Linked DNA regions of Homo sapiens. The protein of the gene in region 1 purifies or fractionates together with the protein of each later gene. This does not show direct contact. Each region holds a gene or a part of one and is shown in the gene's direction. Other genes may lie near its edges. The genes, in order: KGD4, OGDHL and OGDH.

Region 1 (7,104 bases):
AGAGACAGCAACCATCGAGAACGGGCCATGATGACGATGGCGGTTTTGTCGAAAAGAAAAGGGGGAAATGTGGGGAAAAGAAAGAGAGATCAGATTGTTACTGTGTCTGTGTAGAAAGAAGTAGACACAGGAGACTCCATTTTGTTCTGTACTAAGAAAAATTCTTCTGCCTTGGGATGCTGTTAATCTATAACCTTACCCCCAACCCCGTGCTCTCTGAAACGTGCTGTGTCCACTCAGGGTTAAATGGATTAAGGGCGGTGCAAGATGTGCTTTGTTAAACAGATGCTTGAAGGCAGCATGCTCGTTAAGAGTCATCACCACTCCCTAATCTCAAGTACCCAGGGACGTAAACACTGCGGAAGGCCGCAGGGACCTCTGCCTAGGAAAACCAGAGACCTTTTTGTTCACGTGTTTATCTGCTGACCTTCTCTCCACTATTATCCTATGACCCTGCCACATCCCCCTCTCCGAGAAACACCCAAGAATGATCAATAAATACTAAAAAAAAAAAAAAAAATTAGCCAGGCAGGAGGGGTAGTGTGTGGGTGTGTACCTGTAGTCCTAGCTACTTAGGAGGCTGAGGTGGAAAGATCACTTGAGCCCAGGAGTTTGACGCTGCAGTGAACCACGATCACTCCACTGCACCCCAGCCTGTGTAACAGAGCAAGACCTGGTCTCAAAAAATAAATAATAAAGTAAAACATTTTCAGACTGGCTAACAAATGAAAATCCAGTGCTATGCTATTTATAAGAGGCATAGCTAAAACTAAGATTTGGAAAGGTAAAAATAAAGAGATAGTCAACTGATCTTTGACAAAACGAGCAAAGGGAATACAATGGAGAAAAGATAGTCTTTTCAACATGGTGCTGAAAAAATTGGATATCCATCTAGACACAGACCTCACGTTCTTCACAAACATTAACTCAAAATGGATCCTAGACCTAAATGCAAAATGCAAAACTATAAAACCCTTAGAATATAACATAGGAGAAAATAAAAATAACCTTAGGTTTAGGAATGACTTTTTAGATATAACACCAAAGGCATGATCCATGAAAAATTAATTGATAAGCTGGACTTCATTAAAATAAAAAATTCTGCTCTGTGAGACACTGTCAAAAAAAGGCAAGCCACATATTGGGAGAAAATACTTTCAAAAGACATATCTGATAAAAGACTATTATAGAAAACATAAGGCTGGGCACGGTGACTCATGCCTGTAATCCCAGCACTTTGGGAGACCAAGGCGGGCAGATCACCTGAGGTCAGGAGTTCGAGACCAGCCTGGCCAACATGGCAAAACCCCATATCTATTAAAAGTACATTTGTATAAGTATATAATACATATTTACATGCCTATACAGTTAGACCTAACTTACAAATGGTTTATTCACGTATTTGGCAACTGTTACTTGGGCATTTACCATGTAACAGGAATGCTACTGCAGAAGTGCTTAGTTTTCTGTCTCTGACTGTCCAGGAGCTTAGTGCTCTTCTATAATCATTGGCTAACTTATCTGTCCTCTGAAAACATAAGGAGAGTTTTTAACTCAGACTTTGGAATTTGGGAAAGGTTCTTAGAGAAGAGTGACATTTGAGCTGTTGTAAAGGATAAGCAGTCAGAAGGATAGGCATGGAAGTGGAATGGGATAGGAGGGAGATTTCATGGCAGAGGACGTAAGCTGTAGATGGAATGAGGATAAATAGGATGAATTGGGGAAAGGAAAAATACTTCAGAATACTTGGAGCAATGGGTACATAAGACAGTAGGGGAGAAAGGCTGGCAAAGTAGGGAGAGGCCAGATCACAATGGGTGTTGTGAGTGCCAAAGAAGAGTTTGAACTTTATCCTGAAAGCTGTGGAACATTTTTCAAACTTCTTTTTTTTCTTCTTTTAAGTTGTAGAGAGGGAGTCTCATCTTCTTGCTCAGGCTGGTCTCAAACTCCTGGGCTCAAGCCGTCTTCCCAAAGTGCTGGGATTACAGGCATGAGCCACTGACCTCAGCCAGTTTTCAAACTTCTAAATAGGGGAGTGATGATAGGATAGATAGAACATTCTCTTAAGAAGCTTGGCTATGAAAGTGAAGAAACAGTTAATAGAGAAGTTTTTTTTTTTGAGACAGAGCCTCTCTCTGTCACTCAGGCTGGAGTGCAGTGGCTCGATCTCGGACTTCCACTCCAGGGTTCAAGCAATTTTCTGCCTTAGCCTCCCGAGTAGCTGGGATTACAGGCGCCCACCACCACGCCCGGCTAATTTTTTTATTTTTTTAGTAGAGACAGGGTTTCACCGTCTTGGCCAGGCTGGTCTTGAATTCGTGACCTCATGATCCACCCGCCTTGGCCTCTCAAAGTGCTGGGATGACAGGCGTGAGTCACGGTGCGCAGCTTTTTTTTTTTTTTTTTTTTTTGAGACAAAGTCTTGCTCTTTCACCTAGGCTGGAGTGCAGTGGCACAATCTCGGCTCACTGCAACCTCTGCCTCCCAGGTTCAAGCGATTCTCCTGCCTCAGCCTCCCGAGTACCTGGGACTACAGGTGTGTGCCACCACGCCTGGCTACTTTTTTTGTATTTTTAGTAGAGACGGGGTTTCTCCGTGTTAGCCAGAATGGTCTCGATCTCCTGACCTCATGATCCACCCACCTCGGCCTCTCAAAGTGCTGGCATTACAGGTGTGAGCCACCATGCCCGGCCGAGAAGTTTTTTAGCATGGAAGACTTGAGCATGATTTTATGGTGAGGGAGAGAACACATTCCAGCATTTTCTCACAGCCACAGAATTACAGTGGTGAATTTTTAGGCCAATCCCATACCTATTTGCTTCTGTGCCCACATAAAATGCATAATATGTACTACAAATATATAAATATATTGCAGATAAACCCACCTCAGTCTTATTCGTTACATAGCAATTTATAGATTAGTTGAAAATAGTACTTTGTTCATTAGATTCTTAGCATTGTATATTCAGAAGATTTCATATTGACAGGTCCATTTAAGGTCCTCTGTACCACTATCTGGAATTTTACGGACAAAAATGTTAATACTTTTCAAACATCTGTTCCAAAAACAGTATTCCAAAAATATGTATTCCAGGCCAGGCATGGTGGCTCACGCCTGTAATCCCAGCACTTTGGGAGGCCGTTCGAAACCAGCCTGGCCAACATGGTGAAACCCTGTCTCTACTAAAAATATAAAAATTAGCCGGGTGTGGTGGCGGGCACCTGTAATCCCAGCTACTTGGGAGGCGGAGGCAGGAGAATCACTTGAACCCTTGAGGCGGAGGTTGCAGTGAGCCATGATTGCGGCACTGTACTCCAGTCTGAGTGACACAGCAAGACTCTGTCTAAAAAAAAAAAAAAAAAAGTATTCCTATGGGTATAGGAAAAAGACTAAAATAAAGTGCTATCAAATGTTTTAATTTGGGCCGGGCATGGTGGCCCATGCCTGTAATCCCAGCACTTTGGGAAGCCGAAGCAGGTGGATCATTTGAGGTCAGGAGTTCAAGACCAGCCTGGGTAAAATGGGGAAACTCCATATCTACTAAAAATACAAAAATTAGCGGGGTGTGGTGGCGCAGGCCTGTAATCCTGGCTACTCAGGAGGCTGAGGCAGGAGAATTGCTTGAACCTGGGAGGCGGAGGTTGCAGTGAACAGAGATTACGCCACTACATTCCAGCCTGGGTGACAGAGGAGACTCCATCTCAAAAAAAAAAAAAGTCTTTTATTTGTTTTACGTGGGTCTTGGGATTATAGTGTTTTCTTCTTTGTGCTCTTCTGTGTTCTTCCAAATGTTTTACACAGAATTTGTGTTACTTTTGTAGTCAAAAAAAGTATTCTTTAATTTTCTAATTTTCAAAATGATTGTTTTTTCTTCCCTGTTAGGTATTAATATAGTAGGGAAATAACACTCAAAACAAGTCAGGAGGCCAGGTGCAGTGGTTCATGCCTGAAATCCTAGAACTTTGGGAGGCTAAGGCAAGAAGATTGCTTGTACCTAGGAGCAGGAGGCGGAGGTTGCGGTAAGGCCACATCATGCCAGTGCACTCCATCCTGGGCAACAAGCCAGACGCTGTCTCAACAAAAAATTTAAAAAGTCAGTAAATTTCTGCCGGGTGCGGTGGCTCACACCTGTAATCCCAGCACTTTAGGAGGCCAAGGTGGGCGGATCATGAGGTCAGGAGATTGAGACCACCTTGGCTAACACGGTGAAACCCCGTCTCTACTAAAAGTGAAAAAAACTAGCCGGGCGTGGTGGCACGTGCCTATAGTCCCAGCTACTCGGGAGGCTGGGGCAGGAGAATCGCTTGAACACAGGAGGTGGAGGTTCCAGTGAGCTGAGATCGTGCCGCTGCACTCCAGCCTGGGCGACAGAGTGAGACTCCGTCTGAAAAAAGAAAAAAAAAAAAAAGGCAGTAAATTTCCAGTGTTTTTTCTTTGAGATGGGGTCTCACTCTGTTGCCCAGGCTGGAGTGCAGTGGCAAGATCTGAGCTCACTGCAACCTCTGCCTCCTTGGTTCAAGTGATCCTCCCACCTCAGCCTCCCAAGTAGCTGGAACTACAGGCACATAGCACCACATTTTTTTTTTTTTTTTTTTTGAGACGGAGTCTCGCTCTGTGGTCAGACTGAAGTATGGTGGCACTATCTCTGCTCACTGCAACCTCTGCCTCCTGCGTTCAAGCGATTCTCCTGCCTCAGCCTCCTGAGTAGCTGGGATTACAGGTGTGCACTACCACCATGCCCTGCTAATTTTTGTATTTTTAGTAGATACGAGGTTTCACCCTGTTGGTCAGGCTGCTCTCGAACTCCTGACCTCGTGATCCACCTGCCTCAGCCTTCCAAAGTGCTGGGATTACAGGTGTGAGCCACCATGCTCAGCCACCTTTTTTTTTTTTTTTTTTTTTAAGATGGAGTCTCACTCTGTAGCCCAGGCTAGAGTGCAGTGGCACGATCTCAGCTCACTGCAACCTCTGCCTCCGGAGTCCCGGTTGGTTCAAGCAGTTCTCCTGCCTCAGCCTCCCAAGTAGCTAGGATTACAGGCACGCATCACCATGCCCAACTAATTTTTGTATTTTTAGTAGAGATGGGGTTTCACCATGTTGGCCAGGCTGGTCTTGAACTCCTGACCTCGTGATCCGTCCGCCTCGGCCTCCCAAAGTGTTGGGATTATAGGCGTGAGCCATCACACTGGGCCTTGTTTTTCTTTTTGTTTTTGTTTTAATTTTTGGTAGAGACGGGGTTTCACCATGTTGCCCAGGCTGGTCTCAAACTCCTGCACTCACGCAATCTGCCTGTCTGGGCCTCCCAAAATGTTGGGATTACAGGCATAAGCCACTGCACCCAGCCAGCTTTCATTCTTACCAATCTATAAGTCATGCAACATAAACTCTACATCATCTCCTCCATTGGGTTGCTTTGAAGTGAAGTACACCTTCGATAGTACAATGAAGTCTTGTGATATATAAAGTACAAAGTTGTGTTTACCGGGTAGACAAGTTAATAATTCATAGACCAGCTTTCCTGGTTGGGGAAGAGTATAATTTAAAGTTGCTGTAAAATAGTAATTTTAACAAACGTATCTACTTATGAGGTTTAGTAGATCATTTCTTTTAGTTAATGAGATTGTTTTTCATGCATATTACTTTTCATTTAGGTAGTCAAACCACACACTCCATTAATAAGGTTTCCTGACAGAAGAGACAATCCTAAACCCAATGGTGAGTTGTATTTTATTTAAATTTCTTTTAAAATTGTGTACATGAATATTTATAAATGAGTATTTTATTATAGGCAATATTTCTCATTTTAAAATCAGTTAAGACTATTGTAGCTTAGATCAAAATAGTGCCTTATGTAGCATGCAAGTAGAAATTAACTTATGGCTGGGAGCGGTGGCTCACGCCTGTCATCCCAGCACTTTGGGAGGCCGAGGCACGCGGATCACCTGAGGTCAGGAGTTCAAGACCAGCCTGGCCAACATGGTGAAACCCTGTCTCTACTAAAAAATACAAAAAATTAGCCAGGCGTGGTGGCGGGCTCCTATAGTCCCAGCTACTCGGGAGGCTGAGGCATAGAATTGCTTGAACCCACGAGGCGGAGGTTGCAGTGAGCTAAGATCATGCCACTGCACTCCAGCCTGGGTGACAGGGCAAGACTTTGTCTCAAAAAAAAAAAAAATTATTACCTCTATTTTATTTTATTTTTTGAGACAGGGTCTTGCTCTGTCGCCCAGGCTGGAGTGCAGTGGTGCTATCTTGGCACACTGCAGTCTCCCCCTCCCGGGTTAAAGCAATTCTCGTGCTTCAGCATCCTTAGTAGCTGGGATTACAGGCATACACTAGCACGCCTGGCTAATTTTTGTATTTTTAGTAGAGACAGGGTTTCACCATGTTGCCTAGGCTGGTCTCGACTCCTGATCTCAGGTGATCTGCCTGCCTCCGCCTCCCAAAGTGCTGGGATTACAGGCATGAGCCACTCACCTGGCCTTTATTACCCCTATTTTAAAAGGTAGTGACTCAACAGAAGATGTCTCTGAATTTCTAGTGAGTTTATATGGGCAAAATTTTGTCCTACCTTTATTCTCTCCTATCCTTTAGAAGATTCTCCCATGCTTACATTTGCAGAGACTGGGAAAATAATAACCATTCCTGTTTCTCTCCTCACCAACCATCTTTTCTTTCATTCATTCATTTATCTATTCATCTAGTCAGTAAATATTTTTTGGATTGCCTTAATCCTTAGCATTTATTCAAAATTAATGGGAGAAGATTCTGAAAGGGTTCTGTTTTTCTCTGATTCCCGCCCTTTTTTAAAAAAACCAGATCCTCTGTGCCTCTCTTGATCTTTAATTCAGGCAATTTTAACACATTTTATAGGTATATTTTTAACTTATTGTAACTATTGAAGAATTAAGATGTTTAAACAAGTGTAAAGATATTGAGAAAACTACCCTCATTTACATTTACTGACTTTCTTATTCCTTATTGTAAGATATTACCTGTAAACTCCACCATGTGTTGGCCTATGAGGGGTTATGTGACATAAGCTTAAGTAGTGTAGGTTCCCCTAAAGGGTTGAATTCCACTAACTAGAAATTTCATTATTT
Region 2 (7,935 bases), on another chromosome or scaffold:
ATATTTGCAAATCACGTATCTGACAAAGTCTAGCATCTAGACTATGCAAAGAGCTCTCAAACTCAACAGTAAGAAAAAAAAAGAGTGATCCAATTAGAAAAGGTCTAAAGGACATAAAGAGACATTTCTCCAAAGAGGATATACAGATTACAAACACACACGTGAAAAGATGCTCATTAGCCATCAGGGAAATGCAAATTAAAACCGCAATAAGATATCATGACATACCTATCAGGATGGGTAACACACAGCACCAAATGCCGGTGAGGATGCAGAGAAACTGTATCACCTACACATTGTTGATGGGACTGTGAAGTGGCACATCTACTCTAGAAAAGAGCAGAAGGTTTATAAAAAATGAAACATGCAACTACCATACGACCCAGCAATTGCACTCCAAGGCATTTACCCCAGAGAAATGAAGACTTATGTTCACACAAAAATCTGAACATAAATGTCCATAGCAGGTTTATTTGTAATAGCCAAAATCTGAGCACAATCCAGATGCCCTTTATGAGTGAATGGTTAAACAAACTGTGGTACATCCATACCATGGAATACTACTCAGCAATAAAAAGAGACAAATGACTGATTCACACAACAACCTGCATGAATCTCCGAAGAACTATACTGAATGAAAAAAAGCTAATCCTAAAAGCCTACCTACCCTATAATGCCACTTACATATAACATTATTGAATGCAAAATTATAGAGATGGAGAACTGATTAATGGTTTGGAGGGGTTAAGGAGGAGGTGATGTGGGAGGGAAATAGGTGTGGCTATAGAAGGGCATTTTGAGGGATCCTTGTGGTGATAGAAATGTTTTATATAGTAGTTTGTGCTTATCCTGGGGAGATACGTTCCAAGGCCCCCATGGATGCCCAAATCCTCACATAGTATCAAACCCTATATATACCCTGTTTTTTCCTATACATACCTATGATAATTTTTTTTTCTTTTTCTTTTTCTTTTTTTTTTTTTTGAGATGGAGTCTCACTCTGTTGCCCAGGCTGAAATGCAGTGGCACTCTTTCAGCTCACTGCAACCTCCACCTCCTGGGTTCAAGTGATTCTCCTGCCTCAGCCTCCCGAGTAACTGGGATTGTAGGCAACCATCACCACACCCGGCTAATTTTTTGTATATTTAGTAGAGATGGGGTTTCACTATGTTGGCCAGGCTTGTCTCAAACTCCTGACCTCAGGTGATCCACTTGCTTTGGCCTCCCAAAGTGCTGGGATTACAGGTGTGAGCCACCATGCCTGGCCCATACCTATGATAAAGTTTAATTTATAAATTAGGCCTAGTAAGAGATTAACAACAATAAGTAAGACTATAAAAGAAAAATTATAATAATAGACTGTAATCAAAGCTATGAAAATGTGGCCAAAGCATCTATAAACAAAGTTAAGACAAGTGACAGACTGGGAGAAATGTTGCAACATTTACAACCTACAAAATATTCTTATTCAGAATATGTACAGAGTTTATGTGAATTCAAGCAAAATATAAACAACCTGATAGAAAAATGAGCAAAGTCTATCAATAGGCAATTTGTAGAAAAAGAATACAAAATAAGAAACATATAAAAAGAAACATATAAAAACATATAAAAAGATTTTCAGGCCGGGTGCGGTGGTTCATGCCTATAATCCCAGCACTTTGGGAGGCCAAGGCGGGCAGATCACTTGAGGTCAGGAGTTCAAGACCAGCCTAGTCAACATGATGAAACCCTGTCTTTACTAAAAATACAAAAATTAGCTGGGCATGGTGGTGTGTGCCTATAGTCCCAGCTACTTGGAAAGCTGAGGCAGGAGAATAGCTTGAATCCAGGAGGCAGAGTTTGCAGTGAGCCAAGATCACGCCATCGCATTCCAGCCTAGGTGACAGAGCGAGACTCCACCTCAAAAAAAGAGAGATTTTCAAACTCGCTTATCAGTTTTATGCTAACTAAAACAAAATGTGATTTTTCACCTATCAGACTGGCATAAATGAAAGAAAACTGATAATAAATCTTGGCAAGGATGTAAGGGAGTGGGAACTCAAAAACACTAATGAGGAAGTATTCAGTGGAACGGTCTTACTAGATATTTATTATACATATTAAACTGCAAAGAATATATATCTTTTGACCCATTGTTAAACTTAATTTAGAAATCAGGCTGGGCATGGTGGCTCACTCCCATAATCCCAGCACTTGGGAGGCCAAGGTGGGGGATGATGAGGTCAGGAGTTCAAGACCAGCCTGGCCAACATGATGAAACTCCATCTCTACTAAAAATAAAAAAATTAGCGAGGCATGGTGGTGGGAGCCTGTAATCCCAGCTACTCAGGAGGCTGAGGCAGAAGAATTGCTTGAACCTGGGAGGTGGAGGTTGCAGTGAGCTGAGATCCAGCCACTGCACTCTAGCCTTGGTGACAGAGCAAGACTCCATCTTGAAAAAAAAAAAAAAAAAGAAAAAAAGAAAGAAAGAAAGAAAGAAAGAGAAATCAATGTTACCATAGTAGTTTTGCATGTACTAAAGGGAATATATAGGAGGACTCTTTTCTCCTTTTTTTTCTGTAAATGTCAAAAGAAATGGAAATGTTCATTCAATGGGAGAGAAGTGACATACAGTCACCATACATCCCTATAATGAATACAACATACCCATGAAAAAGAATGAGGTGGTCCTACACATACTGAGTTTAAATAAAAATCTTCAAGACAAGGGAAAAAAAGAAACAAGTCGTGGAACTATATTCTAGTGTGATCCATTTCATATTTTTATGTATATGTTTGTAGAAGCATATGGATATAAATACATAAACAATTTTGTAAAAATGTTTGCCAAACTGGCCAGTAGTTATCTCTGGAAGGAAAAAAAAGAGGTGAGGTTGGGGCAGGTGGAAGGGGGCTTTTCACATTTTGTTCTGTATCCTTCTGTATCATTTAAGTTCTGTACAACTAGAATAAATAAAAACTTCCATGTTCTGACACACACACACACACACACACACACACACACACACACACGCCACAGGCATGGGAAAAAAAGAAAGGTGTCTGTTTCTGAAGATCTCTGCAAAGCCTACAGCCACTGCCACTAATCCTCTCAGGCTTCTGAGAATGGCAGCCACCCTCATGGGAGCGTTGATTGCCCCAAATGTTTGCTTTAATCAATGCAATTAGCAGAACACCAATTAGGCTGGAAGGCTGAAAGGCTCTGAAGCCTTTTGATTTGCAAGAGCCTTGTTCCTGCCTGCTGCTCTGTGTCAGGCTTTCCATCTTTCTTAATCGGTGACTCTGACTTGTAAACTTTTCCACTATTACCCCAAACTGCAGCTTCTCCTTTTCCCTAGCTCACTGAGAAGTTCCACTGTGCCCAAGTCACTAAAGCCAGACACCTGTGAGTTATCTATGTCTCCACCCTCATATCTGGTCAACCACTAAACCCCGTGGAGCTGATCCCCGTAAGTCTCTCAAATCTGGCCACCTTACTCCGTCTCTACTGCAAGTACATTACTGCCTCTCACCCGGAATTTGAATTTTGAAAAACAGAAGAGCCTTGAAGAGACAGTTCCTCTATGGCTCAGCCCTGCTTCCTGAAGTAAATTTTCAGCTTTCCTCTGATTCTGTGAGTTGCCTTATATACAACCTTCATATCAACTCGTTTTCGGCTGAAGCTAGCCAGGTCATTTTTGGTGCTTGTGTCCAAAGAATTCCCAATGAACCCTGCCCTTCTGCACCAGATAAAATCTTACTCATCCTTCAGGATCCAAGTCAAGTGTCCATTTACTCACTCAGTCATTCATTCAACAAATATTTACTGAAAAATACCATGATAGTGCTGTGTTAAGTGCTGAAGATTCTTGACCACATGTATCCCTAACTGTCTCCAAATAAAGAACTTTTGGGAGACTTCAGGTGCAGAAGTTAGTTGTATTCCTTTCTTCGTGGCACTCTGTCAGCAGTGATCTGGGTAATTGATTAATTACCTCATATCCACATTCCCCATCCTCCTCCCTCGACAAGCAACCATATTAATTGGTTTGATATGTACTTGAATATATTCTTGTGAAGTGCATACTGTAGTTTTGAGATTAAAATTCAAGAGTGTAAGTGTAGAAGCAGAGAAGCCAGTTAGGAGGCTGCTGCGATAATCCAGGAGAGATTTGATGGCAACTTGAACCACAGGTATGTTATGTTCCTATACAAGAAATCCCTGCATTTAAATGAGAACAAAACCCAACAGAAAGCTGAAAAAAATACAACAGAAAACCCCAAACTAACAAACAACGGGAGATGCAAATGGTTGATAACCAGAGAAATGCAGATTAAAACAATAACAGGACATTGCATCTGCTATTCTGATAATAATTAGAAAGTTGATCTCTATCCCAGAGAAAGTTCCACGCAGGATCCTAAGGGAATGTGTATGAAGAAGTTCATTGCAGCCTTGTTTGTGGCCACGGGGTGGTGAGGACAGCCTGGGTCACCATCAGTGGGAGGATGAATGGGTAAAATGTGTATCAGATTTGGGGTAAGCACTTTTCACGCATTATCTCATCTTTTTTTCAAAACATCCCTAAGATAGTGGAACTTTTCATAGCATTCCCATTTTACAGACGACAAAACAAAACCTATCCTCTCCTACACACAAAGGCTGCTTGTCGTCTGGTACATTCGTCCTAGTTTTAGGACGAGCACACGGGGTTCAGGGCCTCAGCCCCGTTCTGCGGTCTCAGAGAGGAGTCCCCCCTTCGGCCGTGGGCGACCTCGGGCCTGGGCCGCCAGCACCGTGGACAGCGCCAGGAGCGGGGCGGGGCATCCATGGAGACGTCACGACGCGCGGAGTCTCAGGGGCGCGCGCCCGTGGGCGGCTGCGTCACGTGACCCAGGTAATTGGCACGGCGCGCGCGCACCCCTTCCGCGCAGCCCCCTGACCTGCAGCCTCCGGACCTCGCTGCAGCGCGGACCCGGCCCGCCCGCCCGGTGAGCGCGGCGGCCCGCCCCCTCCCGGTCCCTGCGCCGCTGCTTCTCCTGCCGTCCTGGGGACCGGCCCCACAGCTCCTCTCTCCTGGGTCCTGGGGCGCCGCTGCCCGCAGCCCTGAGTCTGGCCCCGCCGGGGGGAGGGGGAGGAGGAACAGACTGTGACCTTGGCTCTGACCTTGGCTGGCCGTGGCCTCCCCCGGGACCCCCAGCCCATCGCGCGCGTACCACCCGGCTAGTCCAGGGTCCTGCGCAGAGGAGCGGGTGCTCGCGGTGGGTTTCTCCAGCCCGAGGACTTCAGACTGCCCCGCGCCTTCCGTGGCCAGGGGAGGGCCCGGAGCTGCGAGGGCTGTGCGGGGGATGGGGAGGGTCAGCGCTGTGCACCTGGCGGGACCCATAGGCAGCTTCGGACTACCAAGGAGCCTAATAGACGGTTTTAACCGCGGTCTCCGATTACAGATGAGAAAACTGAGGCCTGAGAGAGGGCGGCATGGCCTGAGGTCGCTGCTTGCATGGGATGCGCTTCTTCCGCCCCCCGGGAGATGTGGGAGGGGGACGGGGTAATCCCGAGGCCACAGCAGGCTGCAGTACGCATTCGCCGAACCGGAGAGACCCTTTGACGCCCCTCGGCCACCTGGCTCAAGCAGGCCCTAGCAGCCCCTCCCCAGTGTCTTGGAACAGGCCCCAACTAAATAGAATTGCGGTTTGTTGCTGAGCAAAAGCTCATCTGCTTCTCAGAAAGTGGGGTCAGAGTAGACCTGCTGCTGAGAGAATCCAGGCTCTGCTGCTGCCCAGCTTGGAGGGCCCTCTGGGGAGAACCCTTCCCGGCCTCTGTTTACTGATCTCTGCAATGGGTGCATTAGGGAGTAGTCCTCACTAGGGCACCCCAGACAGGGTTGTGTGTGTGGGAGTCTTAGTGGCCATGGTGTCGGCAGTTTTCTGGGGTTGGGTTGAGGTTCTGAGGTTGGGTTGGGGATGCTATGTGACCTTGTCCTCAGAGAAGAGACCCCCAAGAGATACCCAGGGCAACTCTGCTGGAGTCTGGACTGGGCAGGGGGTTGCACAGGGCACCTGACTCTCACTCCTTGTTGCTGTCCTTGACTGTATGGGCAGGAACTAGTAGGGCTGGCTTGGGCTCTGGCTCTAGATACTGAGCCCTCATGCCCTGCTGGGATGCAGGTGGGGGTGGGTGGCAGGCTGCCCTCCTGCCAGGCTGGGTCAAGGTCACAACAGTGCCCAGTGGCCAACCCAGACTGTTTAGTGTTTATAAAACAGTGTTCCTGCACCGGGCCATTCTGGACACAGCCAGACTTTGTCCCTATCTGGCCCAAACTGCCCCATTCCCCTGTGGGGGTGGGAGTGGCGCTGGCAGAGGGAGCAGCTCTGGCTCAGCTGATGGGAACTGCATCGCTAAGAGAAATCTGGCTTACATATTGACTGCAGTGATCAGGGCACAGTCGCTGGAACCCCACACAGCCCTGTCACTCACCAGATTAGCCAGCTTAGCCTCTTGCACCTCAGTTTCTCTGTTTATAAAGTGGAACTGATATGAGTGCCCACCCCATGGGATGTTGGGAGGATTAAATGAGCACAGTATCTGTCCTAGAATCAGTGCTCCTGACGGTGCCTATTATGTTTATTCCCATGACGATGGTCTTGATATCTAGTTTCCTTTGCCATAGACTGGGGATGATAAAGCGTCCTGGGTTGTGGATTCTTTTTGATGCTCTAGAAGATTCTCCCTGATGCTTCAGGAGCTCCTGGGCCTAGTGGCCAGCTGGGCTGGCACGACCTTCTCTTTGCCCAGGCCTCTAGGATAGTCAGAGGTGGAACAGGAGTTGGGACCCTGGCTGCCTGACCCCAGAGCTCATGCCTGGCACTTGGAGAGGTGCTGCTCCCAGAGGAGCCGGCCCCAAGTGCCCCGCGCTCTAGGGCTTGGCATCACTGGCTCGTGGGCTGGGCCACATGACCCGAAGCCTCAGGGGCTGAGCATTGGGGAGGGAAACTTGGGGGCACTCAGAGGCTCCCAAGCTCACCTCCCTCCTCCCTGCAGTGGAATCTTTTTTGTTTTGAAAATTTTCTCTGTTCAGGCTTGCTGCTGGTTGCCCCAGGAGCCTGTCCTCCCTCCATTGAGGTGACATCACCCCTTTCCTCTGGCTCATGTGAGTTAGAAGGAGGGCTGTGCCCTGCCCTCTGGTGGGGCCTGACCTTTTGTGGAAAGTCCAGCCAGTGAGTTTCTGGTGACATGGTTGAGCTGATGGCAGGGGTGAGGCAGAAGGGTGCAACAGGTGTTGGCTGAGCACACCTGACCAGGAGCGTTGGCTCAGGGCCTGGCCTGGGCAGTACTTGGAAGCCAGTTATACCCCAGAATGCACATTTTCTGGGGCCTGAGCTGTCCAGGGGTAGGGGACTCCTCCCGCCTGGGCGACCCCTTGTGGGGTGGTCCTTGCACCCAGCTTACAAGCTGGGCGGTCTGGGCAGGAGGGCATTAGCTGGTATTCATGGGGAGCTGCTCTATGGCAGTGGCTGTGCTGGAGCAGAGGAAGGGGTTCTGCTCACAGTTGTAGGGTGGGGAACAGAGGTCCCACTTTACACATCATGTGTAGGATGAGGTGGCAGGGGTATGGGGTGATCTGGGACCTCAGTAGGCCCTATCAACCCCTAACCTGCCTGGATAGGGATATCTGGGGGGTTCTCCAGGATTGGCAGAGGGCTCTTAGAACTCTTACCGTCTGCGGAATAGAGAAAGCCCCCATCACTGAAAGCCCAAGATTTAGATATTTTCCCTGGGAAGGCACAGGTGACAGAGTGAGGTGAGATGAGCTGCAGGGCCTGGTTCCCCGTGGTCTGGGTGGGCTTCCAGTCTGTACCTGCCTGGACTGTTAGCTGTCTTGAGTGGCGCTGGGCTGGGCCTGGGGCTGCCTTCCATTCTACTCTTCCTGCCCCTCCAGACCTTAGCCCTTC
Region 3 (7,104 bases), on another chromosome or scaffold:
CTGGAAAGGAAAACATCAGAATATTTACCCCATAGCCTGTGGAATTATAGGTAACTTAATTTAACTTTTCATACTATGTCTTTTAAATTCTCTATGTTAAATATATATGGATTTTGTTATCAGAATAGGAAAAAACAAAGGAAAAGAAAAAGTGTAAACAGCCATTTTGGGGTACGTACTCAGAGTAGCCAGATGGCAAGTGCATGCCATGCCCGGCCTCAGCCCCGCCCTCTGGTCCCTGTGCCGGCTGTGCCAGGTGCCCTCTTGCTAGGCTACATGTTCCTTGCAGATCGGCTTCACCACCGACCCTCGGATGGCCCGCTCCTCCCCCTACCCCACTGACGTGGCCCGAGTGGTGAATGCCCCCATTTTCCACGTGAACTCAGATGACCCCGAGGCTGTCATGTACGTGTGCAAAGTGGCGGCCGAGTGGAGGAGCACCTTCCACAAGGACGTGGTTGTCGATTTGGTGAGTGACTCTGGGGACAGCACGTCCTGGGCAGAGCATCTGACCCACCCCTCTTGCCCTCGGCACCCCTGTGTCCCAAGGAGAGGAGCTTGTCTAGATGAGTCACCTCAGGGCTCTCTACTGCCAGGCCTCATGCTGGTTCCTTTGAGCTCCAAATAGTTCAGGCCTGTAAGCACCAAGGAATGCTTCCCAGGCAGGAGCTGTGGTGGTGAGGAGGGCCACTCCTCATTGACAGAGCAGCTCTACTGTGTGAAGGAGAGATACACAGAATCCTAATTCTAGAGAAGGTAAACTCCAGGGCAGGCATGAGGAATGAAGAACGTGGCCATCACCTAGGAGAGATGGGGCAGGTGCCTGAACAGCACTTCTTCCCAAGGGGCCAGCCCTTGTCTCTGACATCCTCTCACTGCTCTGAGCAGGTGTGTTACCGGCGCAACGGCCACAACGAGATGGATGAGCCCATGTTCACGCAGCCGCTCATGTACAAGCAGATCCGCAAGCAGAAGCCTGTGTTACAGAAGTACGCTGAGCTGCTGGTGTCGCAGGGTGTGGTCAACCAGCCTGAGTATGAGGTACGTCCCTGCGGCTCTATCCCAGTGCGCCTTTCCAGGGCTGGCGATGACTAGAAAAGGTGGGCCACAGGGCCAGTTCTCACTTTTGCCAGTTATGAGGATACACGTGAGAGGATGTGAAATATTTACAACTACAGCATTTCAATGCATAACTTTTTGGAGAATCTGGGCCACTGAGATGCTTTATAAAGGAAGTGGGCCTTAAACAGTGTTTTGGGGAAGGGAAGGGGATGTTTTCAGGTTGAGGTAGTAGCAGCCCAGTAGGTTTTCTCAGATTTCACAAATTGTGCATGGTTGAGAGGTGGGTGGTGGATCCAGCTTGGTAAGGGGCCTGTTGTAATCTGGATAGTAAGTGCTGGTTGGTTGTGAGTGGGAAGGCCAAGCAGCTGCCCTAGAGAGGGAGAGGGTGGGTGTGAGGAGCTATATCTGAGCATGGGAACAGGACAGATCCCAGATCAGAACAACCTGATAGCCTGTAGCCTATGCTGGAGACAGAGCTTTGTGAACCAGTTTTTTTTTTGTTTTGTTTTGTTTTTTGAGACGGAGTCTAGCTCTGTCACCCAGGCTGGAGTGCCGTGGCATGATCTTAGCTCACTGCAACCTCCACCTCCTTACTTCAAGCAGTTTTCATGTCTCAGCGTCCCAAGTACCTGGGATTACAGGTGCGAGCCACCACGCCTAGCTAATTTTTGTATTTTTAGTAGAAACAGGGTTTCCCCGTGTTGGCCAGGCTGGTCTTGAACTCCTGACCTCAAGTGATCTGCCTGTCTTGGCCTCCCAAAGTGCTGGGATTATAGGCATGAGCCACTGCGCCTGGCCTGGACCAGTTCTTAAGAAAAAATGTGGTGGGCTGGGCGTGGTGGCTCATGCCTGTAATTGCAGCACTTTGGGAGACTGAGGCAGGTGGATCATGAGGTCAAGAGATCGAGACCATCCTGGCCAACATGGTGAAACCCCGTCTACTAAAAATACAAAAATTTGCTGGGCGTGGTGGCACGCACTTGTAGTCCCAGCTACTCAGGTGGCTGAGGCAGGAGAATCGCTTGAACCCGGGAGGCGGAAGTTGCAGTGAGGCAAGATCGCGCCATTGCACTCCAGCCTGGTGACAGAGCATGACTCCGTCTCAAAAAAAAAAAAAAAAAGTGGTGAAGGGTTAGGGGTTCAAACTCCGAGCAGAATCTCTACCCAGCAAATGTGAGGAAGAAACTTTTGGGAGTGAAAAGAATAAAATCTTAGAAAGGTGTTATGCCTATTGAGAAGGAGCAGGCCCAGAGGCTGAGATGTTTTGCATCCACGAAGTGTGGGACTATGGGTGGGCATGCACGGGAGTTGTGCCAGGGGTATGGTTGGGCTTGCGTGGTGGCTGTCAGAAAGTGTGGGGGTACAGGTGGGCGTGTGCAGTAGTCATGCCCTGTGCCAGTCACGCTGTGTTGTGCCCAACCCTCCAGGAGGAAATTTCCAAGTATGATAAGATCTGTGAGGAAGCTTTTGCCAGATCTAAAGATGAGAAGATCTTGCACATTAAGCACTGGCTGGACTCTCCCTGGCCTGGTGAGTGAAGAAACAGTGCCACAAATAAGCTCCTTTGAGGATCTGATGTAACGAGGCATCCTCTTCCCAGAAAAAATTCATGCTTTCCACTTTGTACCCACAATGCACAGTTGTATGCACCATTTCAGCAAAGCCCCCTGCAGACCCTGGACCCAGACCCCTGCATTAATGTTTTCTGGGGAACACAGTGTGAGCTACATTGTCTCTCACCCTGCTTCTCCCCAAAATCACGTGTCTGCCATTTTGTGGTCCCTGGAAAAGTAGAGCAGATGTCATGCCTCAGTTGTTCTTCTTCTCCTAGGCTTCTTCACCCTGGACGGGCAGCCCAGGAGCATGTCCTGCCCCTCCACGGGTCTGACGGAGGATATTCTGACACACATCGGGAATGTGGCTAGTTCTGTGCCTGTGGAAAACTTTACTATTCATGGAGGTAACACGCTCTGTGCTGACCTGTGGAAATGTTGGGGCCCAGGCCAGGGGCGACGACTGTCTAGGACTGTGACCTTGGCCCCCACCCATCATGTGTCCTACAGAGACTCCCTTCCTGCCCTGCTCAAGGCCTCTGGGGTGGTTGGATGGAGCCACCTCTCCCACTCCCTGCCCTTAGCACGATCCTACACTTCCTCAGTGGTAAAGGAGAGACTGAGGTCACAGCTTTTCCAGCAAGTCAGGAACCCAGAAACTACGAGTAAAGAAGGCTCCGCTCTTGCCATGGGCACGCTGAGAAGCAAGGCAGGCATGTGCAGGCAGGGCCTGCAGCAGCTGGTGAGAGCTGTGTCTCTGCAGGGCTGAGCCGGATCTTGAAGACTCGTGGGGAAATGGTGAAGAACCGGACTGTGGACTGGGCTCTAGCGGAGTACATGGCGTTTGGCTCGCTCCTGAAGGAGGGCATCCACATTCGGCTGAGCGGCCAGGACGTGGAGCGGGGCACATTCAGGTAACGTTCTGGGCAGTTTTGTTTGCCCTCCAAAGAGTAGAAGATGGAAAGGGAGGGGTTCTGGTGTTTCTTTTCCGGAAGACGGTTAGAAACCGGAAGAGTCACATTGCTCTCAGGCTGAAAACCTCTGTCCCTCATTTGCTATGGGTGCTTCTGTTAAGACCTGGGTGGGGCCGACCCTGCAGCTGCCTGGCCAGAAGTCCAGGTCACAGAGCATGGCATCTGCTGGTGCTTCGTGCGGGTCCCCAGCGTATTTGCTTGTCAAGTCAGAGCTCCTAATTATTACCTCTGTTGTCCTGTCTCAGCCACCGCCACCATGTGCTCCATGACCAGAATGTGGACAAGAGAACCTGCATCCCCATGAACCATCTCTGGCCCAATCAGGCCCCCTATACTGTGTGCAACAGCTCACTGTCTGAGTACGGCGTGCTGGGTGAGTGCCTGGAGCCACACCACCAGGGCCTGTCACCCACCCACCCCCGCTGGGCCTACTGGCTGGTGTCCTGGACATGGTTTTCTCCTTCCTTTGTCCCTTGTAGGCTTTGAGCTGGGCTTCGCCATGGCCAGTCCTAATGCCCTGGTCCTCTGGGAAGCCCAATTTGGTGACTTCCACAACACGGCCCAGTGTATCATCGACCAGTTCATCTGCCCGGGACAAGCCAAGTGGGTGCGGCAGAATGGCATCGTGTTGCTGCTGCCCCATGGCATGGAGGGCATGGTGAGCCTCTGGCCCTTCCCTGCCAGACCTAGGACTTGGGAAGGGCCTGTGTAGGACCCTGACCCCAAAGACTGGCACGAGAGCCAGTGGCTCACACCAGCCTCCTAAGGACTCTGCTGGTGCTTCCCATCCATCTCAGATGGGATGTCACTTCAGAAAGCCAGAGTAGCCCATCTGGATGTGGCTAGCATGCCCCGTCCCTGCTGGTGCAGACTCCCTAGATGCACAGGCGTCCAAGTGTGGAAATGATGAGCCAAGTGCTTTGCTGGTGGGAGGGGGAAGGAACTGAACCCTGCCATCAAGAAAAAAGATAACCAGAAATGAGCTAGTTGGTTGAGGAGGAACAGCAGATGCGGCAAATGTCAGTACGCAAGAGCTCTTAAACTGTAACTTGCGTGTGTGGTTCCAGGGTCCAGAACATTCCTCCGCCCGCCCAGAGCGGTTCTTGCAGATGTGCAACGATGACCCAGATGTCCTGCCAGTGAGTAATACAGGCCCTGTCAGCCCAGCCATTCTCGGGGTGTCTGGTGGGAAACCTGGGGAAGAGCAATCTATCTGGTCATCCTGAAGTGGCAGACCGTGCCTCTGTCCCTTTCTCCATCCTGGGGAGCTCACGTGAGTGGACAGGTGTGGCCCCATGCTTCTGGGCGCCCTGGGATGAGAGACTTCCTCAGAGCACAGAGGAAGGTGCAGGGACTGCCTCCATTGGCTTCCTGCTGTTGCTGCAAGCACAGAAACGCCATGTGAGCTCCTCAGCAAGGGCTCCTGCGGGATGCTTCCAGACCCTGATTCAGGTCTGGAAGCCCTGAGGAGGAGAGAACTTTGGGGCGATTCCAGTGAAACTTTAAGAACTCAAAGAACCAGCCTGGGCAACATGGTGAGACCCCGTCTCTACAAAAATTTTAAAAAGTAGCTGGGCGTGATGGTGCACGCCTGCAGTCCCAGCTACTTGGGAGGCTGAGGTGGGAGGATTGCTTGAGCTTGGGAGGTCAAGGCTGCAGTGAGCCAAGATCGTGCCACTGCACTCCAACCTGGGTGACAGAGCAATACCCTGTCTTAAAAAAAAAAAAAAAAAGAACTGTGCTGGGTGTGGTGGCTCAAGCCTGAAATCCCAGCACTTTGGGAGGCCCAGGCAGGCGGATCATGAGGTCAGGAGTTTGAGACCAGCCTGGCCAATATGGTGAAACCCTGTCTTTACTAAAAATACAAAAACTAGCTGGGCATGGTGGCGCCCACCTGTAATCCCAGCTAGTCTGAGGCTGAGGCAGGAGAATTGCTTAAACCCGGGAAGCAGAGGTTGCAGTGAGCCAAGATTGTGCCGCTGCACTCCAGCCTGGGCAGCTCCGTCTCACAAAAAAAGAACTGGCCAGGCGCAGTGGCTCACGCCTGTAAGCTCAACACTTTGGAGGCCCAGGCAGGTGGATCACGAGGCCAGGAGTTTGAGACCACCCTGGCCAATATAGTGAAACCCCGTCTCTACTAAAAATACAAAAATTATTCAGGCGTGGTGGCGGGCACCTGTAGTCCCAACTACTCAGGAGGCTGAGGCAGAGAATCGCTTGAACCCGGGAGGTGGAGGTTGCAGTGAGCCAAGATTGCGCCACTGCACTCCAGCCTAGGCGACAGAGGGAGACTCCTGTCTCAAAAAAAAAAAAAAAAAAAAAAAACTCAAAGAAAATGATTAGGTGTCAGTGTCTAAGGAAAATTGGTTTTAGGTAGAACTTGTGTCTCTTAAAGTGGTATTTGTTTCATGCTGGGCAATAGCTTTCAGAGAAATAGTATGGATTGAGTGGGACTGAGGCTCTCCTCCAGGGTATGAGGCTGGCCGAAGGAGCTTGCTGGACTCACTTGTTAGTGTCAGCTTATGTCTCCTGGGGAGTCAGTGTGTTAGGCCATTCTTGTGTTGCTATAAAGAAAAACCTGAGACTGGGTAATTTATAAAGAAAAGTTTAATTGGCTCACAGTTCTGTAGGCTGTACAGGAAGCATGATGCTGGCATCTGCTCAGCTTCTGGGGAGGCCTCAGGAAGCTTACAATCATGACAGAAGATGAAGTGGGAGAGCAGGCATGTCACATGGCCAGAGCAGGAGTAAGAGAGTGGGGGAGAGGGGCCACACACTTTCAACAACCAGATCTCGTGTGAACTCAGAGTGAGAGCTCACTCATCACCAAGGGGATGGCCCAAGCTCTAATCCTAACACCTCCCACCAGGCCCCACCTCCAGCAGTGGGAGATTACAATTCAACATGAGATTTGGGCAGGGACAAATATCCAAACTAGATCACCTGAGGGCCCCCACATGCCCCAGAAGACTCAGTGCTGTGTCCTGGCCTCTGGCCATTTCCTTCCCTGCTGCAGGACCTTAAAGAAGCCAACTTCGACATCAATCAGCTATATGACTGCAATTGGGTTGTTGTCAACTGCTCCACTCCTGGCAACTTCTTCCACGTGCTACGACGCCAGATCCTGCTGCCATTCCGGAAGCCGGTCAGTGGCAGGGCCTCCCTTGCTCAAACGAGGCCTGGCCCTGCCCTGTTGGTGCAGGGAAGGGCTCCTCAGAGAGCCTCTTGCTTGGGGTTAGCTAGGTGGGCACCTGCAGGGGTAGTGTGGACAGGACATGGTGTCAGGGAGCCTCGCCCTTCCTCCTCACTGCTGCCATGAGGGAACTGCGTGTTCTGTGTGTCCTCTTCCCCGACTGGGCCCCTGCATACTGCTGAGCACCACATGCGGAGCAATCACATAGGCTGCAGGCCCCAGCCCGGTGGGGAGGACGGATGTTTGAACAGGTGGTCATAGGGGGTGTGCTGAGCTCTGGAAGAGAGGTGAGCCCTGGCAGAGGCCAAGGGAGTGCAGGGTC

Evidence for each region.
Region 2: the proteins of KGD4 (region 1) and OGDHL purify together in Homo sapiens (co-immunoprecipitation; 2 studies listed by BioGRID and IntAct, with this or other methods). This does not show direct contact.
Region 3: the proteins of KGD4 (region 1) and OGDH purify together in Homo sapiens (co-immunoprecipitation; 2 studies listed by BioGRID and IntAct, with this or other methods). This does not show direct contact.

What each region holds. Positions count from the first base shown.
Region 1 is NC_000005.10:69,220,686-69,227,789, forward strand, and holds part of KGD4 (alpha-ketoglutarate dehydrogenase component 4), read left to right. Parts: intron 1-5,652; coding exon 5,653-5,716; intron 5,717-7,104. UniProt on the Homo sapiens protein: Molecular adapter that is necessary to form a stable 2-oxoglutarate dehydrogenase enzyme complex (OGDHC). Enables the specific recruitment of E3 subunit to E2 subunit in the 2-oxoglutarate dehydrogenase complex (OGDHC).
Region 2 is NC_000010.11:49,759,278-49,767,212, reverse strand, and holds the start of OGDHL (2-oxoglutarate dehydrogenase-like, mitochondrial), read left to right. Parts: upstream 1-4,889; 5' UTR 4,890-4,974; intron 4,975-5,213; exon of another isoform or gene 5,214-5,244; intron 5,245-7,935.
Region 3 is NC_000007.14:44,693,536-44,700,639, forward strand, and holds part of OGDH (2-oxoglutarate dehydrogenase complex component E1 isoform 1 precursor), read left to right. Parts: intron 1-289; coding exon 290-469; intron 470-888; coding exon 889-1,041; intron 1,042-2,489; coding exon 2,490-2,592; intron 2,593-2,893; coding exon 2,894-3,022; intron 3,023-3,378; coding exon 3,379-3,529; intron 3,530-3,834; coding exon 3,835-3,962; intron 3,963-4,068; coding exon 4,069-4,247; intron 4,248-4,656; coding exon 4,657-4,728; intron 4,729-6,605; coding exon 6,606-6,734; intron 6,735-7,104. UniProt on the Homo sapiens protein: 2-oxoglutarate dehydrogenase (E1o) component of the 2-oxoglutarate dehydrogenase complex (OGDHC). Participates in the first step, rate limiting for the overall conversion of 2-oxoglutarate to succinyl-CoA and CO(2) catalyzed by the whole OGDHC.